Homo sapiens: one gene and its partners. The protein of the gene in region 5 purifies or fractionates together with the protein of the main gene of each other region. This does not show direct contact. Each region holds a gene or a part of one and is shown on either strand. Other genes may lie near its edges.

Region 1 (3,500 bases), on a different chromosome or scaffold from region 5:
CTGAAGAGTTGGTATTCCATTGTAAGGAAGCTCTTAACTGTATGGGCTCTTGGATTCTTATTTTATTCTGTATCTTTTTTTTTTTTTTTTTTTTTTGAGCCAGGGTATCACTCTGTCACCCACGCTGGAGTGCAGTGGTGCAATCTCAGCTCACTGCAACCTCCACCTCCCGGGCTCAGGTGATCCTCCCACCTCAGCCTCCTGAGTAGCTGGGATTACATGCGGCTGCCACCATACCCGGATGACTTTTTTGTATTTTTAGTAGAGACGGGGTTTTGCCATTTTGCCCAGGCTGGTCTCAAACTCCTGGCCTCAAGTGATCGCCCACCTCGGCCTCCCAAAGTGCTGGGATTATAGGCGTGAGTCACCGTGCCCAGCCATCTTATTTTATTCTGTAGATTATAACACTGTCATTATTTTAATACTCAATTATCCAACGTATGGCCAGTAGGGGAGGCCCTTTAACCTGGCTCTGTGTCCTCCATCATTTTTTCAGCACCCCATTTCTGGCAGGAGATATTCAGCCCTGTTATTCACTGTTCTCCAAGGAGCCCACATTCCTTTTGGTGGAAAATGGTGTTAAGAAACCAGAATTTGAGTACTGGGTGTCATCGTTTCTAGACCCACTCAATGGACAGAGCTAGGAAATACATGTATGTATTATATGTAATGTAGGTAGATACGTGTATATCTTTCTGTACCCATCCATACTTATTCAAAACCACGAGGTATCAAACAGATAGTTCCAAATCCATCTAACACCACAGGATTTGTGGTTTATTCCAGGATTCCATCTTTCCATATTTGTAACCCCCTTCCCAAACAGTGAGAGACCTGGCTCCTCTTCTCCGCGGTGTATTTATTTGCACAATCTGAGAATATACCATAGGAGTTTACAAATTCATGACTCATATCTCTGTGAAAAACAAACCCAGTAGCTAGAATTCAGTATTTATCATTCCTTTTGTCTTGGGCCTGAGGATAATAGAATCAAAGCACTGTTCAAAAGTTACCTTTCTCTACGTATCAGTGTGGTTGTGTTATTATTTGGAATATATTAACCCATTTATGCCTAGTGTTCCATTATTGGAATGCTAAGCTTGTGGAGTTATTTCTATCCTACTGCTCAAGGTCATTACCAAGGTCTGATTTTTCACAAAACAAATTTGCAACCTCCAGCATAAATGGGTTAATAGTTGGTTCCTTTTTTTTTTTTTTTTTTTTTTTTTTGAGACGGAGTCTTGCTCTTTCGCCCAGGCCGGAGTGCAGTGGCACTATCTCAGCTCACTGCAAGCTCTGCCTCCCGGGTTCACGCCATTCTCCTGCCTCAGCCTCCCGAGTAGCTGGGACTACAGGTGCCCGCTACCACGCCCGGCTAATTTTTTGTATTTTTAGTAGAGATGGGGTTTCATGGTGTTAGCCAGGATGGTCTCGATCTCCTGACCTCGTGATCCGCCCACCTCGGCCTCCCAAAGTGCTGGGATTACAGGTGTGAGCCACCGCGCCCAGCCTAGTTGGATTCATTTTTATTCCACTTTAGGGATTCCCTCTCATTCTTGCTGATTTCGTGTTTTGGTTTTGAGCGTTTTGTTATTGTTGCTGTTGTTTTGAATGTTTGAAACAACGTGGCTGGGCACAGTGTCTCATGCCTGTAATCCTAGCACTTTGGGAGGCCAAGGCAGATGGATTGCTTGAGCCCAGGAGTTTGAGACCAGCCTGGGCAACATGGCGAAACCTCTGTCTACAAGGAATACAAAAATTAGCTGGGTGTGGTAGTGCACACCTGAAGTCCCAGCTACCTGGGAGGCTGAGGTGGGAGGATCACCTGAGCCCTGGGAGGTCGAGGCTGCAGTGAGCTGTGATCACACCACTGCACTCCAGCCTGGCAACAGAGTGAGACTCTGTCTAAAAAAATAATAATAATAAAAAAAATAAAAGACATTAATGTAGCTCCAAAAGTCAGAACTATACAATACAGTAACTCTCCCTTTTGCCCTGTTTTCTTCCCCTACCCCCTTGTAGGTAAGCAGTCTCGTTCACTTCTGGTTCCTCCTTCCTGGGTTTCGTTTAGCACAAACAGGCAGACACAAGTATGCTATCTTCCCTTCTTTCTCACAGCAAGAAGTAGTACCCTAGACTACTCTGCTTTCCTTTTGCATTTCTTCAGTTAACAATTTATTAGGAAAATGATTCCACATTGGTTTGTAGGATCTTCCTCATTTTTAAAACCACTGTATCAGGGCTGGGCTTGTAATCCCAGCACTTTGGGAGGCTGAGGCGGCCGAATCACGAGGTCAGGAGTTCGAGACCAGCCTGGCCAACATGGTGAAACCCCTTCTCCACTAAAAATACAAAAATTAGCTGGGCGTGGTGGCACACACCTGTAATCCCAGCACTTTGGGAGGCCAAAGCAGGCGGATCACTTGAGACCAGAGTTCAAGGCCAGGCCGGCCAACATGGTGGAACCCCATCTCTACTAAAAGTACAAAAATTAGCCAGGTATGGTGGTGGGTGCCTGTAATCCCAGCTACTCGGGAGGCTGAGGCACAAGAATAGCTTGAACCCGGGAGGTGGAGGTTGTAGTGAGCCAAGATCACGTCACTGCACTCCAGCATGGGCGACAAAGTGAGACTCCATCTCAAAAAAATTAATAAATAAATAATTTAAAAATTTTTTTAAAAGCCTCTGTATCAGATCCCATTATGTGGACATAGCATGGTTTATTCAGCCAATCTTCTATACATGGGCATTTAGGTTTCCAGTTTTACAATTACAAACACTACTGCAAGGGCTGATCGTGCATAAACCTATTTTTGTGTTGTGAGAGGAGTGCCTGCAGGGTGAATTTAGGGGTAATTGCACATGTGGTTTTGTTAGGCACCACCAGATTTCCCTCTGTTGGGTCTGTACCAGTATGTGTTTCCACCAGCAGCTTTTCGGAACCTCTTTTCCCACAGCCTTACTAACTAAATGTGCCATTACACGCTTGAGTTTTTGCCAGTCCAGTAGAGGAGAATGTATTGCAGTGGAGTTTTAATTTACATCTCTCCTTTCTGAGTGAGGTGGAACATTTTTCAGATGCTTAAGGGCCATTTATTTATTTGTTTATTTATCGGAGTCTCACTCTGTCACCCAGGCTGGAGTGCAGTGGCACGATCTCGGCTCACTGCAACCTCCGCCTCCCAGGTTCAAGCAATTCTCCTGCCTCAGCCTCCCAAGTAGCTGGGATTACAGGCGTGAGCCACTGCGCCCAGCCCTTCCCAGTCTCGTTGAGACGTGGCTTGTAAGGATGTGATGCAAGGTGTGAACCTTCCCCAGAAAGAAGTGCATACGCACAGCACAGCCTGGCTGCAGCATCTGCTTCAAACAAAACAGTCAGCCGAGCTCCACTTTCTTTGACTTAATCATTCTTCATGCTCCACCCATTTCCGGAAAGATGTGAGGCATCCCTCTGATGCTGAGCGCAAGTCTGTGCACCTCTTTGCCTTCTTGTATGTTGT
Region 2 (3,500 bases), on a different chromosome or scaffold from region 5:
AGTAAAACTCCAGAGGCCATGATTTTTCTGAACTGGAGATTCAAACGTGAAATGTATTAGCAATGAACATTGGAGAGGAAAAACGTTTTTTTAAAAAAATTTGTAAGTTAAAAAAAAAGCAAATACTTAGATTTAAGTCTAACAAAATATGCGCGGAATCTGTAAGCTGAAAACTACAAAGTAACAATGAAAGAAATCAAAGGCAATCTATGTAAAGGAAGATATATGCTATGTCTGGCCAGGTACGGTGACTCACGCTTATAAATCCCAGCACTTTGGGAGGCCAAGGCAGGTGGATCCCTTGAGGTGGCGACACCCTGTCTCTGCTAAAAATACGAAAATTAGTCAGGCATGATGGCGCTCGCCTGTAATCCCAGCTACTGGGGAGGCTGAGGCAGGAGAATTGCTTCAACTCAGGAGGCAGAGGTTGCAGTGAGCCAAGATCATGCTACTAAACTCCAGCCTGGGTAATCTCAGAGCAAGACTCTGTCCTCACCCCCCGCCAAAAAAGATATACGCCATGTTCATAAATTGAAAAGCTATTGTTAAATTCTCCTCAAATTGGTCTAGAAATTTAACACATCACAATCCAAATCTCAGAATTTTTTTAGATATTGATGTTAATATCCTTGCCCATCAGTAGTGACAGAAGCATCGATCTTACCAGCCAAATATAAATGGACTCTCCTTTGTTAAACCCTCAGCAGTCACCCATACAGGACATTCATGTATTAGATTATGTGAAATGACTATAGTCATCCGCTAAATTAATGCAGAACATTAATAATGAAGTTTTATCAGGGCCTTCCATTCACAGGCATAAGAGGTCTTATCAACTGACTTTGATGTTACCTGCCTGGATCTAACCCTGGAGACTAGATCCACATCGACATTCACCAGAGAAAATCACTTGGACCTTGCTCTTTAAGGGGCCACACTAAGTCCTATCTACCCCCCACCACTGCTATAAAGTGCCAGAGCTTTCGGTCTTGGGTCCATGCTTCCCACTGCCAGAGACTTCACTTATTGCCTGCAGCAGACAACATTAGTGAAGCTCTCATTAACCACTCAAGTTTGCTGTCGTCTTCCATGACCTTCCCCATGAAATGGATACAAAGATAAGCATTACACATGGGTATCACTTCCTTGCATTAGCCAATTATCAGGATTTCCACTAGTTATATGTTCACTGGGTAAGATCCTTAAAATTCAGATGTCACAAAGATTAACTAATGGGTTTTCGATCTCGAGGTCATGGACACATCCACCAAGTACCCTGTATATCAGGAATAGATCCTTCTTATCTTTTTTAAGTACTCTAAGAATCAGATTACCAGATCTGTCTTGCCATTTGCTCTGTAACTGGTCTCGTCTTTCCAGCTGGCCCTTTGGGCTGCTAAAAGCAGTTTATCTCACAACCTTTAGTCCTTTGCTACTCAAAGTATGGCTCACAGACCAGCAGCATTAATATCACCAGGAAACTTGTTAGAAATGCAGAATCTCAGGCCCCACTCCAGATCTGCTGAACCAGTCTGCATTTGCTCAAGATCTCCAGGTGATTCGCATCAGGAGCATTGCTTACAAAGATTTAACCTTACTTTCCATTGGTTAAGTGAGTCCTTATCAAGCCAACCCTGATCCAAGAGTAACAATCAAGTTCAGCTGTGCACCACAGCAAATGAGGCATCACCTGATGGTTCTTAATGGGTGGTTGTTCCTATTTGTTGCTTTTGTTGGTCACTGAGAGTTGGTTTTAAGATTAAAGGGACCTTTTTCTCCAAAGGAAGATTTGCCACACCAAAGCAGGAAAGGCAATGGTTTACCAAACAAAAAAACCCTAGGCCCTTTTATAAGTCTAATGTTTACCCAAACACAGAAACATAAGATGTTTCTTTCCTCTATGCTCCAAAATATTAGGTCAGAGTTAGAAAGGAGAATCCATAGGCAGGTAACTTTTTGTTAACACCTTGCAAATGGTGATACTTGCAACGCCTGGCAAATGGTGACGCCTTGGACGTATTACTCAACAAATTTTCCATGGCAGGCCCATGGATCCAACCTCATAGACAATTCCAGTATGTCTGTCTTACATCTGACACTATACGAGGTTTATTGTAACATCCACTAATGGCTTATATAAGTGAGTTAAGCACTTTTAATTACAACTATCCCCCAAAGAAACTGAATTTCCTGTTTCTGTTGATGTGATCATATAGTTTTTCTCCTTTAATCTGTAGAGAGGTAAATTACATATTTTTATTAAAACATCCTCCTGTTCCTGGGAAAGATTCTCCTTTTGCTCATGATACAATATTTTATGCACTGCTACATTCAATGTGCCAATATTTCATCAGCAATTTTTCCATCTATGTTCATAAACAAGATTGGTCTATTAATATTTCACAGTCTTTGCTCAAGTGTAGCTTTGAGATTTTACTAACTTTCTGAAATGGGTTGGGTAGCTTTCTCTCATTTCAAAGTTTCTATAAGACAGGAATTATCAGTTTCTTGATGTTTTGGTAACATTCATCTTTCAAAAATTGTCTTTTGGCGAGGTGGACTTGTGATTACTGATTCCACTTCCTTAGTGGTTGATTTAAATTGTCAAAATCTTAGATGGATCTTCTACTGTTTTCCTAGAAATATATCCATTTCTTCTCCACTTACAAAATTTTTATCATAAAGTTAATGGTATTCTTATGATTATTTTAAATCTCTATTGGTAGTTATGTCCTTTAAAAAAAAATCTAAATACTGTTTATTTGGGCCTTTTCCTTTCCTGACTGGAGGTTTATCTGAAGGGTCCCTTCTGCTGCAGCCTGCAAAGCCTCCATCAAGGGACACCCACTAGCTGGTTGCTGCCACAGCTGTGGCTTTACCTACCCCAGCTAACCCAGCGAGTATTAGTCCATCCCCACACTGCTATAAAGAACTGCCTGAGACGGGGTAATTTATAATAAAAAGGATTGACTCACAGTTCCGCAAGGCTGCAGAAGCCTCCAGAAACTCACAATCATGGTGGAAGGCACCTCTTCACAGGGCAGCAGGAAGAATGAATGCAGGAGGAACTACCAAATACTTATAAAACCATCAGATCTCATGGGAACTATCACGAGAACAGCATGGGAGAAACCAACCCCATGATCCAATTACTTTCATCTGGTCTCTCCCTTAACATGTTGAGATTATAATTCAAGATGAGATTTGTGCGGTGGGGACAGAAAGCCTAACCATTATCAGTATGTTTGCTTGTTTACTTCTATTTTAAACTTTAAAATAAACCCGTAACTTTAGCAGTGCTGTTTTGCTACTCCTCTTAAATTCTCTCATTTTCTTGTGTATTTCATCCTTTTGCTAGTTTTGCACTGGTTACTACTCAGTTTCTTTGTTGTACTGAGTCATTTAAGTATCATTTTGAGAATGGAAAAAAATGTTATTAAGTTCATTATTCCTTATGTATTTACTGAGCATACAATTGTTATAGAAGGCAGAAAGAATTT
Region 3 (3,637 bases), on a different chromosome or scaffold from region 5:
CTGACCTCAAGTGATCCACCTGCCTCAGCCTCCCAAAGTGCTGGGATTACAGGCGTGAGCCACTGTGCCCGGCCTTGGAATGTGCTTTTAAAAAAATGATAAAATTTTGCTTTAAAATGCTAAAAAAGCATTAGTCAAAAATTAGAATATTTCTATTATTATCCAAACATATAAGACATGTTTTTGCAGGGTGAAAATAAAGGGGTTGTTTGCCATAGAAGAGGATATACATCATTGTAAAGGTTGAGTCAGTAATTTATTTGATTTAAATCTGAATCAAGAATTTATTTTAACCTTCTCTGAATGGTCATCATATAAAATGTGTTAGCATTTGTGCCTGTCTCACTGTATTAATTTTCTTTTCTCAATAGGCTGGATTTGGTTATGGTTTGCCAATTTCCCGTCTGTATGCTAGATATTTTCAAGGAGATCTGAAACTGTATTCCATGGAAGGAGTGGGTACTGATGCTGTCATTTATTTGAAGGTACTGCGTTTTATTTGTTAGTATGAGGCATCTTTGCTTTTTAAAGCTGTAAGTTCTAATCGCTGATTGAGAACAGCACTGTATCATCTCTTAGATTCATCTCAGATTTACTTCATTTTCCCATGAAAACCATGTTATGCCTCACGCTTGATTCTATGCTCAGATAAAGCAAAATATGAAACGTGGAGGTATAGAAATTAAAATACTGATTTTGGCCGGGCGTGGTGGCACATGCCTGTAATCTCAGGACTTTGGGAGGCTGAGGTGGGTGGATCACCTGAGGTCAGGAGTTCGAGACCAGCCTGGCCAACATGGTGAAACCCCATGTCTACTAAAAGTACAAAAAATTAGCTGATGTGGTGGTGCACGCCTGTAGTCCCAGCTACTCAGGAGGCTGAGGCAGGAGAGTCATTTGAACCCGGGAGGCAGAGGTTGCAGTGAGCCAAGATGGTGCCACTGCACTCCAGCCTGGGCGACAGAATGAGACTCCATCTCAAAAGAGAAAAAAAAAAATTAAAATACTGATTTTTAAAACCATAATTTTAAATTGTGACTTAAAAAACTACATGCCTATTGAAAGGTCTGATCTAAAAGAAGGCAGATTTTCATAAACTGAAGTATTTTGGTCTTTTGTTTTAAAAACTCACTGGCTTTCCCAAAGCTACAAGAATTCAGTAATCATAATATGGTTATGTAAAAGATTCATTTAATAACAAACTTCTCTGTAACACAGTTTTTCTTATTCATTGGTGATCATTGGGCTTTTATTTCTAAACTCTAGAATATTTGTAACATTTTTTTGAATAGGTAATATAGGCACATAATAAAAATTTAAAAGCTACAAAAGGAAAAATGAAGTCTCTCCTCCCACTGGCCCTAAACCGCCAGTTCTGTTCAGCGAAGATCACCACCGGTCTCAGCGTCTTATGGATCCTCCTAGAGTTGATTCTACATTTATAAATATGGGAAAAATAGAATTTTTCCCACATAAATGAAATTTCAGCACCTTCTTATTTTTTTTACTTTGCAATCTGTCTTAGAGATCTTTCCAGATCCATTTATGTAGAACTGGCTCATTCTTTTAAACAGTGGCATAACATGCCACTGTGGGTCAAGCATCCCTAACCCAAGAATCTGCAATCCAAAATGGTTGAAAATCTGGAACTTTTTGAGCGCCAACGTGATGCTTGCTCAAAGGTCAAGCTTAAAGGAAATGCTTATTGGAGCACCCCAGATTTCAGATTTTCAGATTAGGGATGCTTAACAGGTAAGCACAATGCAAATATTCCAAAATCGGAAAAAATCAGAACTACTTCTGGTCCCAAGCATTTCTTTCTTTCTTTTCTTTTTTTTTGTTTCTTTCTTTTTCTTTTTTTTTTTTTTTGAGATAGAGTCTCACTCTGTCACCCAGGCTGGAGTGCAGTACTGCCATCTCGGCTCACTGCAACCTCTGCCTCCTGGGTTCAAGCCATGCTCCTGCCTCAGCCTCCTGAGTAGCTGGGATTACAGGTGTGAGCCACCACACCCGGCTAATTTTTTGTATTTTTAGTAGAGACAGGGTTTCACCATGTTGGCCAGGCTGGTCTCGAACTCCTGACCTCAGGTGATCCACCTGCCTCAGCCTCCCAAAGTGCTGGGATTACAGGTGTGAGCCACTGTGCCCGGCCTGTTCCCAGGCATTTCAAAGGGATACTCAACCTATGTATGTGATACCAGAATTTAACCAGTTACTGGGAGTATTTATCTTAGATGCCCATGCATCTAAGTAATGCGATATTTAATATACTTGATGGTGTGTGTTTATAAACCTGGGATGCATGAGACTGTATCTCTTCCTGGGCCCTTTGTGAGACCAGTCACCAGGTATAGTCAAAACAGTTGAGCATCTCAAAGCAGTATGAGCTGAATTAAAATATGTTTTGTTCTGGTCATGTGTATTTCAGTTCTGATTTTGAATGAGCAAATGTTTTCATTCCTTTAAAAAAGCTTTAATGTTTTCCTGGCCAGTCTAAGTAAACTACTAAGGTGTAATTTTAATATCATTTTGAAAATATGTATTAAGGTTTCTGATGTTTTAAATAATAAAATTTGGGTTACTATTTCACTTGAGAAAAATGACACTGTCGACCTTTGGTGTATATTTTTGTTTCTCCAATAGGCTCTTTCAAGTGAGTCATTTGAGAGACTTCCAGTTTTTAATAAGTCCGCATGGCGCCATTACAAGACCACGCCTGAAGCCGATGATTGGAGCAATCCCAGCAGTGAACCCAGGGATGCTTCAAAATACAAAGCAAAACAGTAATATACCACCTTGATTTCCATTACAAAGTATCTGATTTGTCTGAATAAAGGTGTCCCACTCACTGTTCCAGGAATTCTTGCAGTGTAGAGGTATTCACAACAGCAAGCAGGGATTTGGCCTGCCATCAATTTTATTTAAAAAGCAATTAAGTTTGCAGTTTGTCCTCATAAACGTTGTAGGTTGAAACTGAAAAATAAGTTAAAATGATCAATCAAGATAAAAGGTGATCTATCCATCCAATGGAATATTATTTGGCCTTAAAAAGGAAGGACATTCTGATATGTGCTGCAACATGGGTGAATCTTGAAGTCATTATGCTAAGTGAAATAAACCAGACATAAAAGGACAAATACTATGATTCCACTTATGTGAAGTACCTAGAGTAGTCAAATGCAGAGACACAAAGTGGAAGGGAGGTTGCCAGGGGCTAGCGACGAAGATGGAATGGGGAGGCATTGTTTCATGGGTACAAAGTTTCAGGTGGAAAGATGAAAAACTTCTGGAGATGGATGGTGGTGATGCTTGCACAACAGCGTGAATGTACTCAATGCCACTGAACTGTACATGTAGCAATGGTTAAGATGGTAAGTTCTGGGCTGGGTGTGGTGGCTCACGCCTGTAATCCCAACACTTTGGGAGGCTGAGGCTGGATGATCTCTTGAAGCCAGGAGTTCAAGACCAGCCTAGGCAACATAGTGAGACCTCTGTCTCAGCAAAAAATTTAAAAAGGTAAAATTAGCCGTGTGTGGTGGTGTGGGTCTGTAGTCCTAGCTACTCAGGAAGCTGAGGCGGGAGGATCACTTGAGCCCAGGACTTCCAGGCTGTAGTGAGCTATGATTCGCACCACTGC
Region 4 (3,503 bases), on a different chromosome or scaffold from region 5:
GTGAACTAGCCAACTTGTTATGTTCTGTAAAAGCCTGCCGTGATGCTGAGGAAGTGAGAATTCTGCTAAGTGGGGCCTGAGGAAGGAGGCCAGCCACCCCTGTGGGGGAGGCAGAGCTCTGTCACTCAGCAGGCAGCAGGGGGCTACTGCTCCCAGGGATCCAGGTTCCAGGGAGTCAGGATGGCAAGGTACAGGAGATGGGATAAAGGACACGAGAGCAGCTGGGAAGATGACAGGGAGGTAGGAAAGGTCCCGAAGAAAGCAGCAAGGCAGGTGTTGAGACAGAAAAGTCCAGGGTTACATGTCACATAGGAGAGCTGGAATCCTTTAGGTCATGCAGAGGCAGCTTGGCAGGAAGCTTGCCATTAAGCTCTCTCCATTCCTTCAGGGCCTCTCTTTGGGTTTCACCTTCCCTCCTCCCTGAACCTCACACAGCATCTTTGCTATTTAGACAGTCAAGAATAGTAAACTTTCAGAAAATAAAACAAACCTGGAAAGAATTTCATAATTATCTTGTTTAATCTCTTTTTTTTTTTCACACTTGACTTTCAGGTCAACTTTTGAATCTCATTGTACAGATGAGAAAATTGAGGCTCAGAAGGAAGTGACTTGTGCAAGGTCATACAGCAAACCAGATGCTAACGCAGAATAAGAGGCGCCCTAGGATCCTGCCTGGTGCCCTGCAGTGCCCGACCATCTGCTTAGTAAAACCTACTGCTTGCTGAAGTTCCTGCACATCCAACCAGCACACCTAACGCAAAGTATGACTTCTTTGTGGAAGTTAATGATTAAAACCTAGTCTGATCTAAAGCATCTTATCCATGGTTACTAATTAAGCCAATTTCAGTGACAGAAAGCATTTCAAACAGAACAGTGTTCTCTTAAGCTAAATCTATAGGCCTCAAATTATGGTGGCATAAACTGTACAATTATGATATTTTGAGTACACTTAAAATATTTTATAATACAATACATTAACCTCTGTAGCTTTACATTTTCTCTTCATTGCATGCCACATGTTGGGCCCTGATAAAATGGTTTTATAACTTTTGGGGGAGGGCTTTAACTAAAATAACTTCATGTAGTGTTTGAGCGAACTAGGTAATAAAATCTGTTTGCTGTATTCGCTGTCTCCAGATAGGGCTGTAATTACACCACATGAGGAAGAAAGGTAGCTGAGTTTCAATCTAGATCATTTATGTAAACTCAGCCTTCTTGTCAACGGTGTTCTCAAATTGCATGAGTGCAAACCTCAAAAATCATCTCCTATGAACCACACAGAGACAGTGTCCGATTGCAGGCCTGTGAGATTGCTTATATTCTTTCTGTAATTGGATGTCTGTGGTTCAAGACCAAAATTTGACATTCTGAGGTTAAAAGAACACTCTCACCAATGAATTCCCTAGTACAAAAATTCTGTTTCTGAAACTCGTAAAAATTAAAGTATGCCTTAAACCAAAGTATTACAAATGAATACATTTCACTTGAAAAAAAGCTCCTTTTTCCTTAAAGAAAAAAAAAATTTGGTTCTTTGAAATGTGTTTGAATAAAAAAACTGATCTTCAGGAAAGAAAAACAGACTATTCCTAATATAACCAATTTAACATTTGATAACATTTTAATCTCCTACTTCAAGTATTTGGCAACTTTTCGGCAATTTCTCCAAAAAGACATTATAAAAACCATAAAGCACAAAGTATATTCATACTGCATTATAAATCCAGAGACATGAGGCCAGGTGCAGTGGCTCAAGCCTCTAATCCCAGCACTTTGGGAGGCCGAGGCAGGCGGATCACCTGAGGTCAGGAGTTCGAGACTAGCCTGACCAACATAGTGAAACCCCATCTCTACTAAAAATACAAAATTAGCCAGGCGTGGTGGCAGGTGCCTGTAATTCCAGCTACTCGGGAGGCTGAGGCAGGAGAATCACTTGAACCCAGGAGGCGGAGGTTGCAGTGAGTCAAAACTGCACCATTGCACTCCAGCCTGGGCAACAAGAGCAAAACTACATCTAAAAAAAAAATAATAATAATCCAGAGACATAATTACAAGCCAACAAATAAAACATATTTTTCTCAATCCATTGAACTACTCTCCATTATGACAAATTGGTCACTAGTTTTTGATTAGACAATCCTCCCTGGTTGGTATTGAGAGCATTTCTCTTGACACCTGCAGCTTCCAACTTGCTTTGTCCTCTCTAGCAGGAAAAACCACAGGCCACCGCCCTGGCGCCATCCCTGGCTCGGTCCAATCAATAAGGACTTATTTCCTGTCCATTTGCTGAGGTCACAGGAGCGAATCTCATTAATTATTTCTGCGACTGCAGCCTCAAGTGTGCTTCTGGCGTGACAAGTGAAAACTGCTTGACCTTTTTTTCTTCTAATTTTGTTTGTAGCAGTTCCAAAAAGAAAGCAGAACTCATTTAGCAATGTGATAAAAGGAAGGAAAAATGCATATGTTTTAAAAGTCATTAACGCATCGTGAAAGCGCTCCCAATCAACCTCATTCCCTAGGATTTTCAGCTAACTAACAATAGTGTCTTTTTAATTTGATGTCATGAAAATCTGGTCACAGCAAACACAATGTTTTCTAAAGCAGATCTGGCCTCCGAGGGAGGAAAGCTCTCCAGGGCCTCCAGTGCCTTGTTTCCATGGTAACGACACAGGTCAATAGCTGAAGTCACACCTTTGCCAGCTTTGATTCTTTCTCGCAACTGTTAAGAAACAAATGCATGATAAAAGTCAGTTTTAAAGGTACACAGTAAGCACCACAATTAAATTGGGGAGGGGAGATGGAAAACAAAGAAAGGGAGAAATAGTATAGATTGAGTATTTCTGCTACGTTATTTTCTGGAAAAGAGGACATCATTTCCCAGTGATCTTGAGGCACTCATTCCCTAAGGCTGCTTGGTGTCTGTGCTCCAGAGCAGCACAATAGGTTCCAATCAGCTTAATTACAGCTCCTCCTGACTCCCATCCCTTAATATCTTGAAATGTGCCATGCTGGGGGATGGCAGTAAGAAGGCGGAGGGCATTTACATCTCTGGCATTTTGAATTCAGCAGCCTGATATTCTTCCCTTTTTTTTTTTTTTTTTTAAAGAGATGGAGTCTCGCTCTGTCGCCCAGGATGGAGTGCAGTGGTGCGATCTCGGCTCACTGCAACCTCCGCCTCCTGGGTTTAAGCAATTCTCCTGCCTCAGCCTCCCACATAGCTGGGACTACAGGCATGCGCCACCACACCCATCTAATTTTTGTATTTTTTAGTAGAGACAGCGTTTTGCCATGTTGGCCAGGCTGGTCTCGAACTCCTGACCTCAAGTGATCCACCTGCCTAGGCTGCCCAAAGTGCTGGGATTACAGGTGTGAGCCACCGCACCTGGCCAGCAGCCTGATATTCTTATGTGAGGAAGGCTTCACTAATATCTTAGTTAATAACTTTTTTTTTAACACCATATGTTGACACAATAGTCCATATGAAAATTCAAGAAAGACACATAGTA
Region 5 (3,500 bases):
TGGGGTTTCAACATGTTGCCCAGACTTGTCTTGAACTCCTGAGCTCAGGCAGTCTACCTGCCTCAGCCTCCCAAAGTGCTAGGATTACACGTGTGAGTTACCATACCTGGCCACTTTTTTTTGGTTTGTTTTTTTTGAGACGGAGTCTCGCTCTGTCGCCCAGGCTGGAGTGCAGTGGCACTATCTTGGCTCACTGCAAGCTCCGCCTCCCGGGTTCACGCCATTCTCCTGCCTCAGCCTCCCGAATAGCTGGGACTACAGCTGCCTGCCACCACGTCCGGCTAATTTTTTCTATTTTTTAGTGGAGATGGGGTTTCACCATGTTAGCCAGGATGGCCTCGATCTCCTGACCTCGTGATCCGCTCACCTCGGCCTCCCAAAGTGCGTGAGCCACCGCACCCGGCCTTTTTTTTTTTTTTTTTAAATAGAGATGAGGTCTTGCTATGTTGTCCTGGCTGGTCTCGAACTCCTGGGTTCAAGTGATCTTCCTGCCTCTGCCTCCCAAAATGCTGGGATTATAGGCATGAGCCACCATACCCGACTGACCCTAAAACACATTTAAGGTCTCTGTTCATGTTGGGTCAGCTCTTTGTATTGGCCACAGGAAGTCACATGGTCATACCTAGCAGGCAGGGAAAGGGAGGGAGGTCCATCCCTCCTCACAGTGGGAGAGTGCTACAGTTAGATTGCAGGGGTGTGATTGTGTTAGAGTTAAGAATTGAGACCAGTGGTCCCAGTCTACCCTAAGGCTTCAGGAAATGCTGTTCTTTCCCTCACTTTGCTTGTTCTGGCTCTTTATATGCCTGGTTCTTTTCATTCTTAAACTTCTGCTAAATGTCACCTTAGAAAAGTCTGACATAGTCCTTAATAAAAATATTATTATCCACCCCCTTGCCAACCTCCATTTCTCTTTATCGTGATGCCCTATTTATTTCATCCATAGCACTGATCACAATATTACATTGTTTTGTTTATAGCTTTTGTCTCCCAAATCAAAGTATGAGCCTCCACAAAGATAGGAACTTTGTCTTTCTATACTGTCCTACCAAACATTGGATGGATGGATGGATGGATGGATGGATGAATTGCCTGCTTGCAGGTCAGATGCAGAGTGGTTTGCATTGTCAGATGATATCTTAAATTTCATGTGTTTCAGCTTGTGAAGTCCATTTTGAAAACACCAAGATACCTGTGGAAAACATCCTTGGAGAGGTCGGAGATGGGTTTAAGGTGAGTTGCCAGCCACAGCCCCTTGTACCAGGTAGTGTCATGAGTGCAGTTTGTCGCCCCCAGCTTTTGCCCTATCCCTGCTCGTAGCAGAGTAGCCTGTGCATGGCAGGTGACTTTGCATGGTTATCTGTTGGGAAATTGGCAAAATGGACACTGGAAAATTGGCTGGCTCCTAGAAGAAGTGTATGGTAAGGATTAGGAATTTCCCTTCACCTCTGAGGCCCTATTCGCCTCGAGCGGAGGCTAAGATTCCCTTCTGCAGTGGGTATGAGAAAGCAGCCTGTGGGCTCTGGTGAATCTCAAGCTCTGTGTACCACAACCCTGGTCTGCATCGCTGCCCTACTCTTTTCTTTTTGGACTAAGACTTATTTTTATCAAGAGATGATTCATATGACAAAGGACTCACCATTTTAAAATATTATTTCAGTGGTTTTTAGTATATTCACTATGTTGTTCAAATATCTCACACAGAACATTTCCTCACCCCAAAAAGAAATGTTGTACCATCCAGTATGACCCTTACCCCATCCCTTGGCTGCTACTCTTTTACTTTATGTCCCTATGGATTTGCCTGTTTGGAACATTTCATAAAAATGCAGTCATATACAAGATCCAGTCTTTGGTGACAGGCTTCTCTCACATTGCGTGATGTTTTCAAGGTTCATCTCTCTCATAGCATGAATGAGTAATTCATTCCTTTTATGGCTGAATTCTCTTCTGTTGAGTGGAGATACCACATTTTGTTCATCCATTCACCAGCTGATGGACATTGGGGTTGTTACCGCTTTTGGCTGCTATCAGTAATGCTACTTATGAACATTCATGTCAAGTTTTAATGTGGAAATAACGTTTTCAGGTATTTTGATTTATGCCTAAAAGTAGAATTTCTGTTTGGCCCAAGTTGGTCTTGAACTCCTGGGCTCAAGCGATCCTCTTGCCTTGGCCTTCCAAAATGCTGGTACTACAGGTGGGAGCCACCATGCCCAGCTCTGGCATGGTCCTTTGGAATAACGTTCAGTGGTCTTGTGTGTGGGGATGTTGGTAGAGCTGCAACAGTGACTGAACCACCTTGTTCTGAGGCATTAGGATGGTGCTTTCTCCCAGCTTGAGGGAAGGCAAGCTGATCCACCTGGCCTGGTTTCGTTGCGGCCTCCTCCCTCTGCCTCCTTCAGGGCCCCTGGGCTCTCCCTGTTCTCCCTGCAGGTGGCCATGAACATCCTCAACAGCGGCCGGTTCAGCATGGGCAGCGTCGTGGCTGGGCTGCTCAAGAGATTGATTGGTAGGTAAGTTAGGGACAAGGCCCTTTGTGCCCCACCCCCTGCTGCCCCGGCTCCAACCCTGGAGGCTCTGCCATTCCCCCGGCCCCTTCCAGGCCAGTGCTGAACCAGGCTACCAGCCTGAGCTCAGTCCCTGGGCTTTTGTGGAGACCAGAGGGTCTCCTCAGCCTGCCCCTGAGGTTTGTTGTCTTCCGCATTCCTCTGTTTCACCTCCACCCGGGTGATGCTGACTGGGGGACAGGCTTTCTGTCTGGGGTGGGGATGGGGATTGGGGAATGGGCTGTCTGTCTGGAGTGAGAGGTTGCCACTGACCAGTAGGAGCAGAGCTGCTTGGTGAGCACACACCAAGAACCAGGCTTCCAGGATACACGGCCTCTGGTTCCCAAGGTCCGTGCCTCCTGGGTGACTCTGCATGGTGGGTGGGGAGTAGGATCGGGTTTGGAACCCAGGTCCCTGGGCCCCTGGATCTTACCTTTGTTCTATTCTGTCAGAATACCCCAAACCTCCATTTTCCTTTGCCAGTGAACTTAGAACAGCCCTGTAACCATCCTGGTTGTGGTGGAAGCATTTGCGGGGAAATGGGGGTACCCGGGGCAGCACACCCCTAAGTGCTTTATGAAGCTCCTCTTTGGTGCCAGGCTCTGGGCCTGTTTTGGCTTCCCTCCATTTTAGAGATGAGAAGACAGAGACTCAGAGAGGGCAAGCGATTTGTTCCAGACTGTGCTCCTGGACCCAAAATGAAAGCTGTCAGGCTCCAGGCTCAGGGCTCTTCTTACTCAGGCACAAGGCCTCTGGGGAGCTCCTCTGCTGGGGCTCTGAGTGGGGCTCGGCCCTCTACACCTCCTGAGTGCACCACACCTGGGAGAGCCTGTGGAGGACATGGCTATGGCGGGGCGGGGGTGCTTCTGCCTGGGAGAGGCGCCATGTCACTCTTGGGCCCTTAGAGCTCAGCACTTTGTCACAGCCACACGCCTGGAAGCCCCAGCCTGAGTA
Region 6 (2,208 bases), on a different chromosome or scaffold from region 5:
CATATCAAACCTAAATTATTGATCTTCCACCTGTTCTCATTTCTTCTGTCCTGTCTCTTGTTGAGTCACAACAGCTGTTCCCCATGCTCTGCGTGGTAACATTCCACATGGTACTCCATAAAAGCCTGATATAGATGACCTCTCTATAACAGAACTGCAATTATTCTTGTCATGCTTCAGTTGTTTCTGTGGCTCTCCTCTGGACTCTCTCCAAATTCTCCTGCTCAGTTTTAGCAAGCTGGCCTGGAGTTCTCTCACACGGTCTGGCTAGCACAGTAATTTGCTTGTGGTTAAAAGCCTTTGTGCTCAGTACTGAGACTGCCACATAATGAATTTTCATTTCCATTTTATTCTGAACTTGCAAACATCAGAGATTCGTGCTATCTTCAGTGTTTAAGTGGTAATGCCTTTTGTAAAATAAAGGAGGCTGCAGGCCAGGCACCGTGGCTCATGCCTGTAATCCCAAAGCTTTGTGAGGTGGAGGCGGGCAGATCACTTGAGGTCAGGAGTTCGAGACCAGCCTGGCCAACATGGCGAAACCCCATCTCTGCTAAAAATAGAAAAATTAGCCAGGCGTGATGGTGCATGCCTGTAATCTCAGCTACTTGGGAGTTGAGGAATGAGCACTGTTTGAACCCAGGAGACGGAGGTTGCAGTGAGCAGAGCCGAGATCGCACCACTGCACTCTAGTCGGGGTGACAGAGTGAGACTCCATCTCAAAAATTAAAAAAAAAAAAAAAAAAAGCCTGTGGTTATTTTGATGGGATAGCAAGGATAACATGAACCATGTAAGGTTTGGCATAAATAGTTCATAGTTGACCTGGTCTGTCTGACTGTCTGAGATGTCACTGAGTCATTTGATGACCTTGAAATGCTAAAGCATTGGAATGAATGTCTGTAGATCAGGACAGAGGTGGGTTCAGAGAACTATTTAGGAGACATCTGGGTGGGAGTTGTGGCCAACACTGATTACAGGTGAGCACTGGGGAAAAAAGCCAGGATTGCAAGGAGTTAAAGATCACCCATTCAAGAAGTTTGGCAGAAGGAGCAAGACAGGAAATTTATTCATTTAGTGGCAGTCAGAGGTAACAATATAAGAAAAGCATTCTGAGTCTTCTTTTAGGCAAACTGAAATTTGCCATTAGAGAAGGGAGTTCTTTGTTTTTCGTTTGTTTTAGGGACTATTTAAAAAATAAGAACATTTGTGTCTTATTAGTTAAGGCAGCACTATCCAATAGAATTTTCTGTGATGATGGAAACAGTCTACATCTGTGCTATCTGGTATGGTGCTATAAGCCACATGTAGCTATTTAAATTTAAATTTAATTAGTGTGGCTACTGAGCAATTGAAATGTGGCTAGTATATCTGAGTTGAATTTTGATTAATTAAAATTAAAATTTAAATTTAAATAGCTACATGTGGCTAGAGGCTACTGCATTAGACAGCTCAGAGTTCGAGTTTTACTAACTAGACTTGCAGATTAATCTCAAAATATTAATGTCTTAAAACAATAAAAGTGTATTATTCAACTATCACATCCAAACCAATTGGTGCTAGGGTGTAGGGAGGGGAGCATTCTGCTCTGCCTAGTCATTTGGAACACTGGCTCCTTCTATCTTGTGTGGTGCCATCTTCAACCTTGAAGGGTGCATGTTGGAGGGGAAGAGATAGAATATGAAGAATCTCTTGAGAAGTGTTATGGGCCATGTCTGGAAATGGCCTACATTACTTCAACCCATATACCCATATTCTAATAGTTACAAATAAATGACATGGCTCTACCTAACTGCAGGCTGAAAGAAAAGGAACAAGGTTTATGGACACATAACATTACCCTGCCACAATGAAATTTGTAGAGGTCTGGGATCAGTCTCTAATACCTCCTCCATAAGGAAATGGAAATAAATTTTAATCAGTGTGCTAAGGGAGTAAATCTGGTACAGTTCTGGATGTGAGGAAGAGACTGAAGGATCAAAGTGGGGCAATGGGGGTTCAACATGGGGCAGGGATCAGGAGGAAGAGATGGAATAAATAATAGAGGACAGAAAACAGTTGGTATTTGCTGATGGAGAACCACTTCTCGGAAAGAGAAACAAAAAGAAAGTGTGAGAATAGAAATTTTGAGGTGAAAAGGAGAGAAATTCAAGGTTCTTAGATTGAATCACTTTGTCTGCTCTGAGGTTATTTGCTTATTATGACAAGCCTGG
Region 7 (2,249 bases), on a different chromosome or scaffold from region 5:
TGAAAGCTTAGTTTTTGTTTGTTTGTTTGTTTTTATTATTATTATTATAATACTTTAAGCTTTAGGGTACATGTGCACAATGTGCAGGTTAGTTACATATGTATACATGTGCCATGCTGGTGTGCTGCACCCATTAACTCGTCATTTAGCGTTAGGTATATCTCCTAATGCTATCCCTCCCCCCTCCCCCCACCCCACAACAGTCCTCAGAGTGTGATGTTACCTTCCTGTGTCCAAGTGTTCTCATTGTTCAATTCCCATCTATGATTTAATTCCATCTATGGCTTAGTTAATGATTAATTTATTAGAGTTACATGCATTGGATATCAATTTGATGATATTATTATGCAGCAATTTAAACTTGACTGGGAGAAATATATACCAATGTGAGGAAAGTTTACAAATAGGCCGAGTAGAAAAGGGAATACAAATTTAGGAATTTAGGGAATTACAATTTAATAATTGCAATGTGTACTAAATAATGTATACAGAAAAATATGATGAGCCTATTAAAAATTGACACATGTAGTAGGCTGTTGGCACAAGAAATAGTGATACATACAGTTCATTGTGTACAAAATAATGTAATCATATTTTACATGTGTATCATACAGTTGTATACATACATATGTACACATATACATATACGTAAAAACATGATTCTGTTTTTACATACATGTATATACATATACACATATAACCCAATGTATTTATATATTCAGGACTCATATTTTACCTATTAGAATAATAATGTCTATTAAAGTGAACCTTCTGTATTTCACATTTATTGCCAAAATAACGAATCTCCACATAGTCAATTCATTGTTAAGGTGTATTAGAGATCGACAGTTAGTCATATCAGTTTCTTTTTTCCATTTGTATAGCTTGAAGAGAAACTCACTGCTGAGAAATTGATGGAATGGACAAGTTTGCAGAATATGAGAGAGACATGTGTCGATTTACACTTACCTCGGTTCAAAATGGAAGAGAGCTATGACCTCAAGGACACGTTGAGAACCATGGGAATGGTGAATATCTTCAATGGGGATGCAGACCTCTCAGGCATGACCTGGAGCCACGGTCTCTCAGTATCTAAAGTCCTACACAAGGCCTTTGTGGAGGTCACTGAGGAGGGAGTGGAAGCTGCAGCTGCCACCGCTGTAGTAGTAGTCGAATTATCATCTCCTTCAACTAATGAAGAGTTCTGTTGTAATCACCCTTTCCTATTCTTCATAAGGCAAAATAAGACCAACAGCATCCTCTTCTATGGCAGATTCTCATCCCCATAGATGCAATTAGTCTGTCACTCCATTTAGAAAATGTTCACCTAGAGGTGTTCTGGTAAACTGATTGCTGGCAACAACAGATTCTCTTGGCTCATATTTCTTTTCTATCTCATCTTGATGATGATAGTCATCATCAAGAATTTAATGATTAAAATAGCATGCCTTTCTCTCTTTCTCTTAATAAGCCCACATATAAATGTACTTTTCCTTCCAGAAAAATTTCCCTTGAGGAAAAATGTCCAAGATAAGATGAATCATTTAATACCGTGTCTTCTAAATTTGAAATATAATTCTGTTTCTGACCTGTTTTAAATGAACCAAACCAAATCATACTTTCTCTTCAAATTTAGCAACCTAGAAACACACATTTCTTTGAATTTAGGTGATACCTAAATCCTTCTTATGTTTCTAAATTTTGTGATTCTATAAAACACATCATCAATAAAATAATGACATAAAATCATTTTTGCTTTACCTGTTTTCTCTCTGGAAAGGGCAAGTGTCCAGTTACACATAGGAAAGATAATTTAGAGATATATTAATCATATATAAAGGAAAATTAAAAACAGAGTAGTTCATGATGAGCCTGGAGTAGAAGGCATATCCCAGAACAGGAGGAGCCTTGTAAACCACATAGGAACTTCCTATTTTATGCTAAAGGGATAAGAAACTCATTACAGGCTTTGATGGTTGTTTGTCAAAGAGGGGCATAAAATTATCATATCCACATCTAGAAAATACATCTCTGGCTACGCTGATATCAATGGATGCGAGGAAAGAACAGTGTGGTTACCATATATAAATTAGGAAATCATTAGAGTATTGGGAGTGGAAATGGAGAGAAAGAAAGAGCCTGGGGGAATTATTTAGGAAATAATAGTTACAGAAAGACATCTAAGTTGCTGACCTATCTGACTGGATGGATGGAAGAATATCTTGTTTCTGAGAGAAAAAAAGACTTTG

Evidence for each region.
Region 1: the proteins of ACAD9 (region 5) and PDSS1 purify together in Homo sapiens (affinity purification with mass spectrometry; 3 studies listed by BioGRID and IntAct, with this or other methods). This does not show direct contact.
Region 2: the proteins of ACAD9 (region 5) and PDK1 purify together in Homo sapiens (affinity purification with mass spectrometry; 2 studies listed by BioGRID and IntAct, with this or other methods). This does not show direct contact.
Region 3: the proteins of ACAD9 (region 5) and PDK3 purify together in Homo sapiens (affinity purification with mass spectrometry; 2 studies listed by BioGRID and IntAct, with this or other methods). This does not show direct contact.
Region 4: the proteins of ACAD9 (region 5) and PDSS2 purify together in Homo sapiens (affinity purification with mass spectrometry; 2 studies listed by BioGRID and IntAct, with this or other methods). This does not show direct contact.
Region 6: the proteins of ACAD9 (region 5) and DBT purify together in Homo sapiens (affinity purification with mass spectrometry; 3 studies listed by BioGRID and IntAct, with this or other methods). This does not show direct contact.
Region 7: the proteins of ACAD9 (region 5) and SERPINB4 purify together in Homo sapiens (affinity purification with mass spectrometry; 2 studies listed by BioGRID and IntAct, with this or other methods). This does not show direct contact.

The regions. Positions count from the first base shown.
Region 1 is NC_000010.11:26,728,701-26,732,200, forward strand, and holds part of PDSS1 (all trans-polyprenyl-diphosphate synthase PDSS1), read left to right. Parts: intron 1-3,500. UniProt on the Homo sapiens protein: Heterotetrameric enzyme that catalyzes the condensation of farnesyl diphosphate (FPP), which acts as a primer, and isopentenyl diphosphate (IPP) to produce prenyl diphosphates of varying chain lengths and participates in the determination of the side chain of ubiquinone.
Region 2 is NC_000002.12:172,601,090-172,604,589, reverse strand, and holds part of PDK1 ([Pyruvate dehydrogenase (acetyl-transferring)] kinase isozyme 1, mitochondrial isoform 2 precursor), read right to left. Parts: 3' UTR 1-3,500. UniProt on the Homo sapiens protein: Kinase that plays a key role in regulation of glucose and fatty acid metabolism and homeostasis via phosphorylation of the pyruvate dehydrogenase subunits PDHA1 and PDHA2.
Region 3 is NC_000023.11:24,531,286-24,534,922, forward strand, and holds the end of PDK3 (pyruvate dehydrogenase kinase, isozyme 3 isoform 2 precursor), read left to right. Parts: intron 1-371; coding exon 372-485; intron 486-2,643; coding exon 2,644-2,787; 3' UTR 2,788-3,137; downstream 3,138-3,637. UniProt on the Homo sapiens protein: Inhibits pyruvate dehydrogenase activity by phosphorylation of the E1 subunit PDHA1, and thereby regulates glucose metabolism and aerobic respiration. Can also phosphorylate PDHA2.
Region 4 is NC_000006.12:107,152,062-107,155,564, forward strand, and holds the end of PDSS2 (all trans-polyprenyl-diphosphate synthase PDSS2), read right to left. Parts: intron 2,717-3,503; coding exon 2,558-2,716; 3' UTR 501-2,557; downstream 1-500. UniProt on the Homo sapiens protein: Heterotetrameric enzyme that catalyzes the condensation of farnesyl diphosphate (FPP), which acts as a primer, and isopentenyl diphosphate (IPP) to produce prenyl diphosphates of varying chain lengths and participates in the determination of the side chain of ubiquinone.
Region 5 is NC_000003.12:128,900,120-128,903,619, forward strand, and holds part of ACAD9 (complex I assembly factor ACAD9, mitochondrial), read left to right. Parts: intron 1-1,156; coding exon 1,157-1,230; intron 1,231-2,433; coding exon 2,434-2,509; exon of another isoform or gene 2,510-2,513; intron 2,514-3,500. UniProt on the Homo sapiens protein: As part of the MCIA complex, primarily participates in the assembly of the mitochondrial complex I and therefore plays a role in oxidative phosphorylation.
Region 6 is NC_000001.11:100,188,627-100,190,834, forward strand, and holds part of DBT (lipoamide acyltransferase component of branched-chain alpha-keto acid dehydrogenase complex, mitochondrial isoform 1 precursor), read right to left. Parts: 3' UTR 1-2,208. UniProt on the Homo sapiens protein: The branched-chain alpha-keto dehydrogenase complex catalyzes the overall conversion of alpha-keto acids to acyl-CoA and CO(2).
Region 7 is NC_000018.10:63,636,759-63,639,007, reverse strand, and holds the end of SERPINB4 (serpin B4), read left to right. Parts: intron 1-884; coding exon 885-1,289; 3' UTR 1,290-1,749; downstream 1,750-2,249. UniProt on the Homo sapiens protein: May act as a protease inhibitor to modulate the host immune response against tumor cells.